4 separate regions of the Homo sapiens genome follow, and all the other regions are linked to region 1. The links come from fine-mapping of genetic effects on gene expression. A gene starts in region 1. Each other region holds a variant in brackets. All regions are shown on one strand. Distances are between the middles of the regions. Region 1 holds the start of RGMA (repulsive guidance molecule BMP co-receptor a). Region 2 overlaps LOC105370982 (a long non-coding RNA gene). Region 3 has its middle 86 kb from the start of RGMA. Region 4 overlaps LOC105370982 (a long non-coding RNA gene).

Evidence for each region.
Region 2: its variant is fine-mapped to the expression of RGMA in blood mononuclear cells (TOPMed, PIP above 0.99).
Region 3: its variant is fine-mapped to the expression of RGMA in prefrontal cortex (GTEx, PIP 0.95).
Region 4: its variant is fine-mapped to the expression of RGMA in blood mononuclear cells (TOPMed, PIP above 0.99). The same link has a PIP of 0.9 or more in monocytes.

The regions. Positions count from the first base shown.
Region 1 is chr15:93,087,879-93,090,561 of GRCh38, forward strand. It overlaps RGMA (repulsive guidance molecule BMP co-receptor a), which reads right to left and starts at 1,333. Exons shown (of 4, transcript NM_020211.3): 1 at 1,041-1,333. The coding sequence starts at 1,054. LOC101927025 (a long non-coding RNA gene) reads left to right here and starts at 1,336. Exons shown (of 5, transcript XR_007064769.1): 1 at 1,336-1,399.
Region 2 is chr15:93,242,921-93,245,603 of GRCh38, forward strand. All of the region lies in intron 4 of LOC105370982 (a long non-coding RNA gene), which reads left to right. Among named protein-coding and RNA genes, the nearest start is that of RGMA, 160 kb to the left of the region's middle. RefSeq lists enhancers at 1,844-2,353, 2,354-2,683. The variant G/A (reference allele first, on the strand shown) is at 1,416.
Region 3 is chr15:93,173,543-93,176,225 of GRCh38, forward strand. No RefSeq gene overlaps it. Among named protein-coding and RNA genes, the nearest start is that of RGMA, 86 kb to the left of the region's middle. The variant T/C (reference allele first, on the strand shown) is at 1,583.
Region 4 is chr15:93,246,528-93,249,210 of GRCh38, forward strand. The region is part of intron 4 of LOC105370982 (a long non-coding RNA gene); the gene reads left to right. Among named protein-coding and RNA genes, the nearest start is that of RGMA, 160 kb to the left of the region's middle. The variant G/A (reference allele first, on the strand shown) is at 1,553.

The sequences.
Region 1 (2,683 bases):
ACCGTCGATACTCAGAGAGCTTCTGTAGCCTCCTTCCTGGAGGCGAGGGCTGGTTCCCGCCTCTCCACCTTGTGCGGGAGACTACTTTGAGAACACCCAACAACTTCGCAGCCTAAGAGGAATGCACAGCTCACCACTTCCGCTAGATGGCGCTACTTCCCCTACTCCGCCCGCGAGACACCCAATTTATAAAATAAATACAACCCAACACCTCCCAAAACCACACCACATAATAGCAGCTCACAGGCTCCCATTAGAAATCTCAATTTGGGAGAACTGATTCTACCTCCGAGCAAGTCTAATACAATTACATTAATAAGACGCAATCCCGAATTGCACCCGAGCGTCCCCCACACCCGCCCTCCCATTGAATACACCTGTCCCCCATGCCCGGGCTTGTACCCTGGGTTGAGCTGCGGCGCGAGCCGGCGCTGAATCGTCGCCGTGCCCTCCCGTCCACTTAGGAAAGCCGGGGCGGCTTGGCAATGGGCATCCTCGGCCCTCAATCCAAGGTCCGCACCTTCCCGTACGCCGGCGCGCCGAGGCAAAGGGCCGCCGGGACGCGAGCCCACGCGGTGCACTGCGCCGACATCCCCGAGGGCAGGAGATGGCCAGGCAGCTCCGCAGCCGGGCGTCGAGCGGGAGGCGGGGGCCCGGGCGGCGCGGGCCAATGGGGGTTCACGGCGGGACAGTCGGGTGGCCGGCTCCGTCCGGGGCTCCGCGAGCCGGGCTGAGGGAAGGAGCTCCCAGCCCGCACACGGTGTAAGGGACGTGTGCCGGGTCTGCCCAACCACGCGCGCTGGCGGCTGCCCGGGGGAGAGTATTTTAGGAAAAAAGAACAAACACCAAACCACAAAAACTTTCCTGCTGCCAACAGCTAAAGCGATAGAGGCGCAGCAAAGCTCCAAATGTGGGCAAGATGGGAGCAAGATGAGACGCGGGGCTAAGGAAGACCAAAGCAGCGCCGTGGCCCCGGCATGTGTCGGCGGCGCCTCGGAGATGTCAGAGCCGGGTCTGCCCGGCTCCCGACCCGCGCTTACCTTGGCGGCTGCATGAGCCCCTGCGGCCCGCGGGGGGTGGCGCTGGCGGGGCTGCGGGAGAAGAGGGGGTGTCGGGGCGCCGCTCGTCTGCCCCGGGGCAAGGTGGGAGGGGCTCCGCTGGCGCTGGTCCCCGCCGCCCCGGCCGGCTCAGCAGCGGCCCGGGGAGCGCCTCCTGCTCCCGGGCTGCATGCCTGCGAGCGCCTGGCGGAGCCGGCCCGGGAGCGAACGGCCAGTGCTTCCCCGGCCCAGCGGCTCGGGCGGCGCAGCCAGCGCTCGGGAGACAACTGCAGAGTGGGGCGGCCGGGACCAGCCCCCTCCCTCGCCCGGCCCCCGCCCGCCGCCGAGCGCGGCGTCGCGAGGTTCGTTTGCGCGCCGAGGGGAGGGGGCGGGCCGGGCGCCCGGGCCGCGGGCGGGGGGCGCGCGCGGGCGGGGCCGGCAGGGAGGGGCGGGGAGGAGCGGGGTGCGGGCTCGCGTTGCCCCGCCCCGCCGCGGCCCCACCCTCCCGCATCAGCACCGGCTGGGTGGGTGCGGAGTGCGCCAGCGGCCAAGTCAAGACTCCTTGAATGCTCAGGTTAGGGGGCGCGGGCGGCAAGTGCGGCGACTCCCCGGGGCGCCTCCAACTTTCCGAATCGCCCGCAGGGTTGCGGTGGAGCGCACGGTGTCCTTCAGTTAGGCGGTGGTCGAGGGGAGTTCCTCTGAGATTTCTGGAGAAGGCGGTTACATCCAAGACAAATGCTGTTGCGCTCTGCGGAGACGCACCTTTGTTCTATAGAGATTTTGTTGTTGTTTAAGAATCTTCCTGAAAAAACTAATACATATGTATTACATGCTAACACACGCATACATTCTTGCGTAGAATTGTACATAACTCAGGAGTGTCTAGAGTGAAAAGACCGTATCGCACTCCCTCCCACGGCCGCGGCTCTCCCACGGCCGCGGCTCCCCCGCGGTAACCTTCGGTCAGGGTGTGCTCTGCCGCGGTTCTTTCCAGTCTCTGCGCTTTTACATGCACACGCACAGATTGCGAGTGGAATCTCCTGGGCTTTTCAAAAGAATGTTTTCAACATTAAGCGCATGCACACAGTGGCTTGAACACGGCCACGTCGGGAGCAGTAAATCCCCAGAGGCTCCGGGAGCCCAGGGAAGGACCCTTGCTGTGAAACAGCAAAGAGCCACCCAATCGCCATGTGTGGATCTGAAACCCCAGCTGGAGCGTGAAGTCGGTCTGGTTACACAGCTCAGGCCCAAATTAGCACTGCACGGTTAGAGAGATTTGCCAGTACATTCTAGACAGGGTTATGACCTTCCCCTTCTTACAGAACAAACTGTCTTGAATTTTGATATGATGAGAACTCTGGATTTGCAAAATGAAAAGGTATCGTCCGCATTAAAACACGATCGTTATTTATGCGTGTGGTCTTCAGAGATGTGGTTTTAACTCAATATTCTCCGTTTTATTTGTCAAGTGTATTTGTATAATCTATAGCTGGGATATAAATAAAATTAAGTGGTTTAGCAGGAAGGGATTGGGGATGGGTTTCTAGAATTAGCTCTGACCTTCGGCAAGTCATCTAGCTCTGCTGGGCCTCAGTTTCCTCATCTATGAATAGTAGGGTGTGTGTGTGTGTGTGTGTGTGTGTGTG
Region 2 (2,683 bases), 160 kb after region 1:
GTGTGTGTGTGTGTGAGCGAGGTGGCAAAGAGATAGAAAGAGGGAGAGAATGTGTGTGTGTGTGTGTGAGCGAGGTGGCAGAGAGGGAGAGAGAATGTGTGTATGTGTGAGCGAGGTGGCAAAGAGAGAGGGAGAGAATGTGTGTGTGTTTGTGTGTGTGAGGTGGCAAAGAGATAGAAAGAGAGGGAGAGAGAATGTGTGTGTGTGTGTGTGTGTGTGAGTGAGGTGGCAAAGAGAAAGGGAGAGAGAGAATGGGTGTGTGTGTGTGTGAGCGAGGTGGCAAAGAGAAAGGGAGAGAGAGAATGTGTGTGTGTGTGTGTGAGCGAGGTGGCAAAGAGAAAGGGAGAGTGTGTGTGTGTGTGTGTGAGCGAGGTGGCAAAGAGATAGGGAGAGAGAGAATGTGTGTGTGTGTGTGTGAGAGCGAGGTGGCAAAGAGATGGAGAGAGAGAATGTGTGTGTGTGTGTGAGTGAGGTGGCAAAGAGATAGAGAATGTGTGTGTGTGTGTGAGCAAGGTGGCAAAGAGATGGAGAGAGAGAGAATGTGTGTGTGTGTGTGTGTGTGAGCGAGGTGGCAAAGAGAGAGGGAGAGAGAGAATGTGTGTGTGTGTGTGTGGTGGCAAAGAGATAGAGACGGAGAGAGAGAGAGAATGTGTGTGTGTGTGTGTGTGTGTGTGAGCGACGTGGCAAAGATAGGGAGAGAGAGAATGTGTGTGTGTGTGCGTGTGAGCGAGGTGGCAAAGAGATAGGGAGAGAGAATGTGTGTGTGTGTGTGTGTGTGCAAGGTGGCAAAGAGATGGAGAGAGAGAATTGTGTGTGTGTGTGTGTGTGAGCGAGGTGGCAAAGAGAGGGAGAGAGAGAGAATGTGTGTGTGTGTGTGTGTGTGTGTGTGTGTGTGTCTGAGTGCGTGTTTGTCTGAGATGTGTGTATGTTAATTATTAGCCCAGGCCAGGCGCAGTGGCTAACGCCTGTAATCCCAACCCTTTGGGAGGCTGAGGTGGGTGGATCACCGGAGGTCAGGAGTTTGAGACCAGCCTGGGCAACATGGTGAAACCCTGTCTCTACTAAAATATAAAAAATTAGCCAAATTAGTCAGGTGTAGTTGTGGGCACTTGTAATCCCAGCTACTCAGGAGGCTGAGGCACGAGAATTGCTTGAACCTGAGAGGCAGAGGTTGCAGTGAACCGAGATAGCGCCACTGCACTCCAGCCTGGGCAACAGAGTGAGATTCTGTCTCCAAAAATAATAATAATAATAATGATGATGATGAGCCCAGATTGTGGTCAGTTTAAGAGATGAAAGTGAGGAAACAGAATTTTACTTGTTTGGCCACAGAATATTATCTGGGCATATTTGAGAGGAATGAGGAGATAATTTTCTTTTTTAAAAAATGTTTTAGTTGACAAAAAATTGTATAT[G/A]TTTATTGCATACATGTTGCTTTAAAATATGTATACATTGTGGAGTGGCTCCACTGAGCCCCTTAAGATAGGCATTACCTCACATGCACATCATATTTTTATGGTGAGACTTAATATCTACTCTCTTAGCAATTTTCAGGAGTAAAATACGTTGTTATTAATATAGTCACCATGTTGTGCAATAGAACTGTTGAACTTTTTGCTCCTAATAGAAATTTTATTTTTATTATTCCTAATAGAAATTTTATTTTTATTATTCCTAATAGAAATTTTATTTTTATTATTCCTAATAGAAATTTTGTACCCTTTAACCAACATCTCTCCAAACCTCTCCCTCCCGGCAGCCCCTCGTAACCACCATCCTGCGCTGTACTTTCATGCCTTCAGCTTTTTAGATTCCACATGTAAGTGAGATCACGCGGTGTTTGTGTTTCTGTGCTTGGCTTATTTCCCTTAACTTAAGGTCCTCAGGTTCGCATGTGGAGGAGACAGTTTTCTAATCTTTAATCCTTTGCTTTGTGGAGTGTTTCCAGTCGCCTGAGTGGTTTTCCATGCATTTGCCATTCCGTCTCTTCTTACACTCGGGCAGATATTATCATCATCATGACAGTTTTTAGAGCGGGGACTGAGACTCAGAGAGGTAAAGCCTGTTGTCCAAGACCACGCAGAGGACCAGGATGTTGGAATCTGCCCTTCCTTGCCACTATTTGCTGCATGGCCAGTGTATGCTGGGCACTTTTCTAGGTGCCAGAGGGCACTGAGCTGAGTCTGGTGTTGGGAGGGGTGGGTCTGCGGCCCTCTCCTCCCACACCTGTGGGTTCTCTTCTTGCGCCGAGTGGGGCAGAGGAGATCCGGCTGAGGCAGCACTAGGCGCAGCCCCCACACTGCCTGCGGGGTGGCGGTGGGGATCTGGTGGCTTCTCTCTGTGGTTGTGCAGGTCTTGATGGCTTCTGTACCCAGAGCTCCTGCCCTGGACAGCAGGGGCTCGGAGCTGCCCATTCCCATTGTAAGGAGGCTCCTCTCTATGCTGGAGGGTACTGTCTGGAGGTGTTTGCCTCACTCTCTCCGCTGTGTTAACTGAAAGGCAGGGTGCAGATGCGTGCGGAATCTGGGCAGCCTTGGACGCCCGCCCTTGAACTCAAAGTACGCACACCTTCCTCTTCCAACTTGGACGCCGGCTCCCTGGGTTCATCTTGGCCTTGGCCCTGTCCTTCTCAGGTCTAGTTCATTTCTTTTTGCTATCAGGCTGCAACTCCCATCCAAGGAAG
Region 3 (2,683 bases), 86 kb after region 1:
GGCAGGAAGTGAAAGAGTCAAGAGAAAGGCGAAAGAATGCACATGTTTTTTTCATGATGGCACTCCCAGGCCTTAGCCCAGACCTGGCTCAACGTTTGCTGTGTTGAAATGACTCATAACCAGCTATTGTCTGAATCAGGCTGAAGGGATTTGTCTTAGTCTGTTTGTGTTGCTATAAAGGAATACCTGAAGCTGGGTGATTTGTTTAAAAAATTATTTTACTTTAAGTTCTGGGATATATGTGCAGAACGTGCAGGTTTGTTACATAGGTATACATGTGCCATGTTTGCTGCACCCATCAACCCATCATCTAGCTTTTAAGCCCTGCATGCATTTGGTATTTTTCCTAATGCTCTCCCTCCCCATGCCCCCCACCCCCTGACAAGGCCCAGTGTGTGATGTTCCCCTCCCTGTGTCCATGTGTTCTCATTGTTCAACTTGAAGCTGGGTAATTTATGAAGAAAAGAGGTTTATTTGGCTCACGGTTCTGCAGGCTGTACAAGAAGCGTAGCATAGGCATCTGCTTCTGGCGAGGGCCTCAGGAAGCTTCCACTCAAGGCAGAAGGTGAAGGGGGAGCTGGTGTGTGCAGATCACATGATGAGAGAGGAAGCAAGAGCAAGGGAAAAGGTGCCAGGCTTGTTTTAACAACCAGCTCTCAAGGGGACTCTTTTGGGGCCTAATAGAGCAGGAACTCTCCCTTGTTACTATGAGGATAGCACATGCTGTTCATGAGAGATCCACCCCTGTGATCGAACAGCTCCTACTAGGCTCCACCTTCAAGATCGGGGATGAAATTTCAACATGAGGTTTGGAGGGTCAAATATCCAATCATAGCAGGATTGGAATGCATAATGGTGATTCTGGAAGTCTTTTAGGGAGAAATGCATCTGACAAGCAGGAGCAGTTTGTCACTGATATGCCTGGTCTTCCTAAAATGCTGATGCTGCTACTGCAACTACCACCTCCACCAGCACCATCTTAATCTCCTCTTCCATAGTTCCCATCACCACATCCCTCTACCACCACCACTGCCACCATTACCACCTTCACTCTCATTACCACCTTCAGTGCCATCATCTTTGCCACCATCACCACACCACAACAGCCATCACCACCATTACCATTTACTGAACCCTTGTGACGTGGTAGACACCATGCTAGAGGTTTTTAAAGGGTTTAATCTTCATGATACTCCTACATAGTAGAAATTACTAGTCCTATTTTGCAGTGGAGGGAACTGAGGCTCAGAAAAGTTAAGAATTTGCTCAAGATGACATAGTAGAAAGCTGTAGAGCCAGGATTTCAACCAGGTTCATTTGCTCTTCCAGTAGACAAGGAGGAGTGGCTCAGAAAGCTGTGCTGTTGGACACAGGCATATGTTGTGGGCTTGTTTTATGTACGTCTGGGCCACATTGTTTGGGTCTGAGAGACTCTTGTGGGCTATGACCAGCACTGACAATCTGTTTTCCCTTATTTTTTCTGACTTTCTTTCACACATTCTAGATCATATGGCTTTTCTGGTCAGAACAAATGAAAATGTTTTATGTCCTCCCTTTTCTGAGCTTTGGATGTTACTGTTTG[T/C]ACACAGTTCTGGAAGCAGATGGAGCCTGATAGAAATCCCAGATGATAACTCAGACTCAAAAGCTCCTTGCAAATGCCCACGTAGCATAAATACCCTTGAGCATATGAGAGACAGTGACAGAGACTGAAAGACAGACAGAGAGACAGGGACAGAGAGAGACAGAGACAGAGAGACAGAAAGAGAGACAGAGATAGACAGAAACAGAAATAGAGACAGAGACAAAGAGACAGAGATAGAGACAGAGACAGAAAGGCACAGAGGGATAAGAGAGATGGAGACAGAGATAGAAAGAGACAGAGAAAGAGATAGACAGAGACAGAAACAGAGACAGAGAGAGGGCTGCAGAAAACTCATCTTTGCCTGCAATGCCTGCTCCAGCCAGATATCAACACGGAGGGCTCCCCACCAACATTCTGATAGATTCTGAACTACAAGCTTCCAGAATATTAGCAGCTGAGCTCCTCCGCCCTGGGAGGAGATAGAGACAGAGAGAAAGATAGAGACACAGAGGGAGAGGCAGAGATACAGATGTGGAGAGAGAGAGACGGAGATGCAGAGAGAGAGAAATAGAGACACAGACAGAGAGATAGAGACAGATACAGAGAGAAATATATAGAGACAGAAACAGAGAGAGGCCAAGAGATAGAAACAGAGAGACAGAGAGAAAGAGGTAGAGACACAAAGAGAGACAGAGATATAGAGTTGAAGAGACAGAGGGAGACCAAGGGGCAGAGAGAGAGAGTGTGTGCCTGATGGCGCTGTTGGTCCTTTGTATTTTGGGGTCTAGGGGTGCCAGGAGTACCTTGGGCCTTCCGTGACCTTTGCTTCACATCTCCTCAGGTATGAGTGAGTTGAGCAGGGGGCTGCCTTTGCCCTGCGAGAACCGTGCTGAGCACTTTCTAATGCCTGGCCTCTTGGTAATGGCACATCTGCCTCCTGACAGAATCCAGAAGCCCGAGTCAGGTGCCTCCAAAAGGGTCCCAGTTCATTGCTGGGTGCACAGTGTGAGCTTCTGCTCCATCTAGGCATGGGAAGAAAGCCTCCCCTGAAGCTGTTACTCCAAAAGTCAATTCCCCTTGCATTTAAATGGAAGCTCAGAG
Region 4 (2,683 bases), 160 kb after region 1:
GCATTGCTATTATCCCCATGTCACAGACGAGGACTCTCTGGCACACGAAGGGAGAAGAGTTTGGTCCACATCACACACCCCAGAGTGGCAGAACCAGGATAGGAACCCACACAGTCGGGCTTTGACAAGGTGTTCTTAGCTTCTATGTGATGTGGCTTCCGAGTCAGCTCAGCTGGTGTTCCTGAATCAGGTCTATTGCGAAGGAGCATGTAAGGTTCCAGGAGAGTGCAGGAGGTCTGTCTCATTTTGGAAAGGCCGAGCGACAGGAAAAACCACATAAAACCCTTGCTGATTTTTCTGCTTCTGTTACACCGAGTGTGGGTGCGTTGTGCTCTGTACAAAATAATGGTTTTTGTCAGACAGGGACGAGCCGCTGATGGAGGAACACCTTTCCTCCTAGGCTCTCCCTGCGTCAGGCGCAGCCTCGTCATCCTGCCCTGCCCAGTAATTTAGAAGAATAGCAGTAATGATGACAGCCAAAGCCAGCTGGATCCTCAGGGAGAGTCCTAGGAGGCAAACTATAATTATCTAAATTAGACTCTGAGGGGGACTTAAGTTTTACAACCTGTTGTTCTCTGCCACAGAGAGGAGTGTTGCTAATGTCTCTTTTTGCTGAAAGTGTGCCTTACAATGGAGTGTCTCACGGCTGATGTTCATATGGAAACAATGACACTTGCTTTTCTTTCTTTTTTGCCAAAACCCATTCAAAGAGTTCACTGTATCTCAGTGAAGGTTGAGAGGACTTCTAGAAACTTCCAGAAACTTACGAAAGTTTCCATGTTTGTGAAATGAATGTTTTGCCTTTTTCCTAAATTACATTCCCATCAAGAAGCAAGTAGTTCTTGCATATTCTTCCATCTCAAAGTAATCACTCACCTATTTCACCAGGCTGTTTTTTTGGAGTCTCAACTGGCAAATTTCTACAAAGTGCTCTTCTTCACAAGACTTCCTGTTACCTCAGGACCAGAGGTAACCATGAAGCTGAGGGCGGTGGGGCAGCCTCACTAGTGAAATGACTCCCTCCCGCTCACAAGCCTTCCATGGGGCTCACGCCACACCTCAGCAACATTACAAATGCCGACCTAAGTAACACGGGGGTTGACTTCAGACATTGTGGTCAGGCCGACTTGTGTTTAAACCTAGGCTTTGACACCGGTCGATCGTTCAGCCACATGCAGGTTACCTAAGCATGTCCCACGTGGCACAAAGCAGTTGCCTGAACGCCACACTGGGAGGCTTGTCTTAACTTTATCCTGGCTTCCACCTGCACTCGCCGTGATTCTGAGGGCTACTGACCCCAGCCTGGTGCTGCGTTTGGGCTCAAAAAATTGCAATGCTGTCAAGCTGCAGAATCTCTATTGCCCAACAGATACTGTTGTCTTGCCAAATAATTTTTAGTAATTTTCCACCCATCCCCCTTTATGTAATTTTCCATTTCCCCATAGCCCCTCTAGTCTGTTTTTTTTTTATTCCCTCCTTTCACTTCCCCATAATCCCTTTTAGTTCCCTCTCTGTTCTCCCTTTAGAAACCTCCATACCTTTGTCCTAGCTG[G/A]ATTTGAGCTCAGTTATATTGGAGTCTCTTTCCTCTAAGGCAGTAGACTGAACAAAATGTTTTGCCGCCTTTAATGTGTGTCTGGCACTGGCATTGATGAAGGCTTAGCTTCTGCACCTGTAACATGAACAGGTGAGTATCTCTTCTTCTAACTAGGCACTACTTAGTGATATAATAACAGTAACATGTTCTGGGCCATGAGGATTTATTTCCCAAAGTAGAAACCACATTGGTTAAATGTGCAAATATCAATGCTGTACTGAGTTGAAAAGACACCCCAAGCCGGGCACGGTGGCTCATGCCTGTAATCCCAGCACTTTGGGAGGCCAAGGCTGGTGGATCACCTGAGGTCAGGAGTTCAAGGCCAGCCTGGCCAACATGGTGAAACCCCGTCTCTACTAAAAATACAAAAATTAGCCGGGTATAGTGGTGTGCACCTGGAATCCCAGTTACTTGGGAGGCTGAGGCAGGAGAATCGCTTGAACCCAGGAGGCGGAGGTTGCAGTGAGCCAAGATCGAGCCACTACACTCCAGCCTGGGTGACAGAGCAAGACTCTAAGAAAAAAAAAAAAGACACCCCAAATACTCACAAGCGAAGTGACACTTGAAAGAATCTTCACATTTACAGGCTGAAGAAGAGAAACAAGGGAATCTTAAAAGTGAGAGGGCCGGGTGTGGTGGCTCACGCCTGTAATCCCAGCACTTTGGGAGGCCAAGGCAGGCAGATCACGAGGTCAGGAGATCAAGACCATCCTGGCTAACACAGTGAAACCCCGTCTCTACTAAAAATACAAAAAATTAGCCGGGCGTGGTGGCGGGTGCCTGTAGTCCCAGCTACTGGGAAGGCTGAGGCAGGAGAATGGCGTGGACCCGGGAGGCGGAGCTTGCAGTGAGCCGAGATCGCGCCACTGCACTCCAGCCTGGACAACAGAGCGAGACTCCATCTCAAAAAAAAAAAAAAAGTGAGAACAGCGACAGTACATGCAAGGCAGAGTTGTGGATGGAAGAGTGGACTTTGGTAACAGAAAAGAGGCAGGCAAGGTTGGGATTAAAAGGGCCCTGTGTATCAGTGTGAGGTGCTTGCATTCCATCTTTAGGGCAACAGGAGAGCTTAAGCCACAAGGCGAGTTT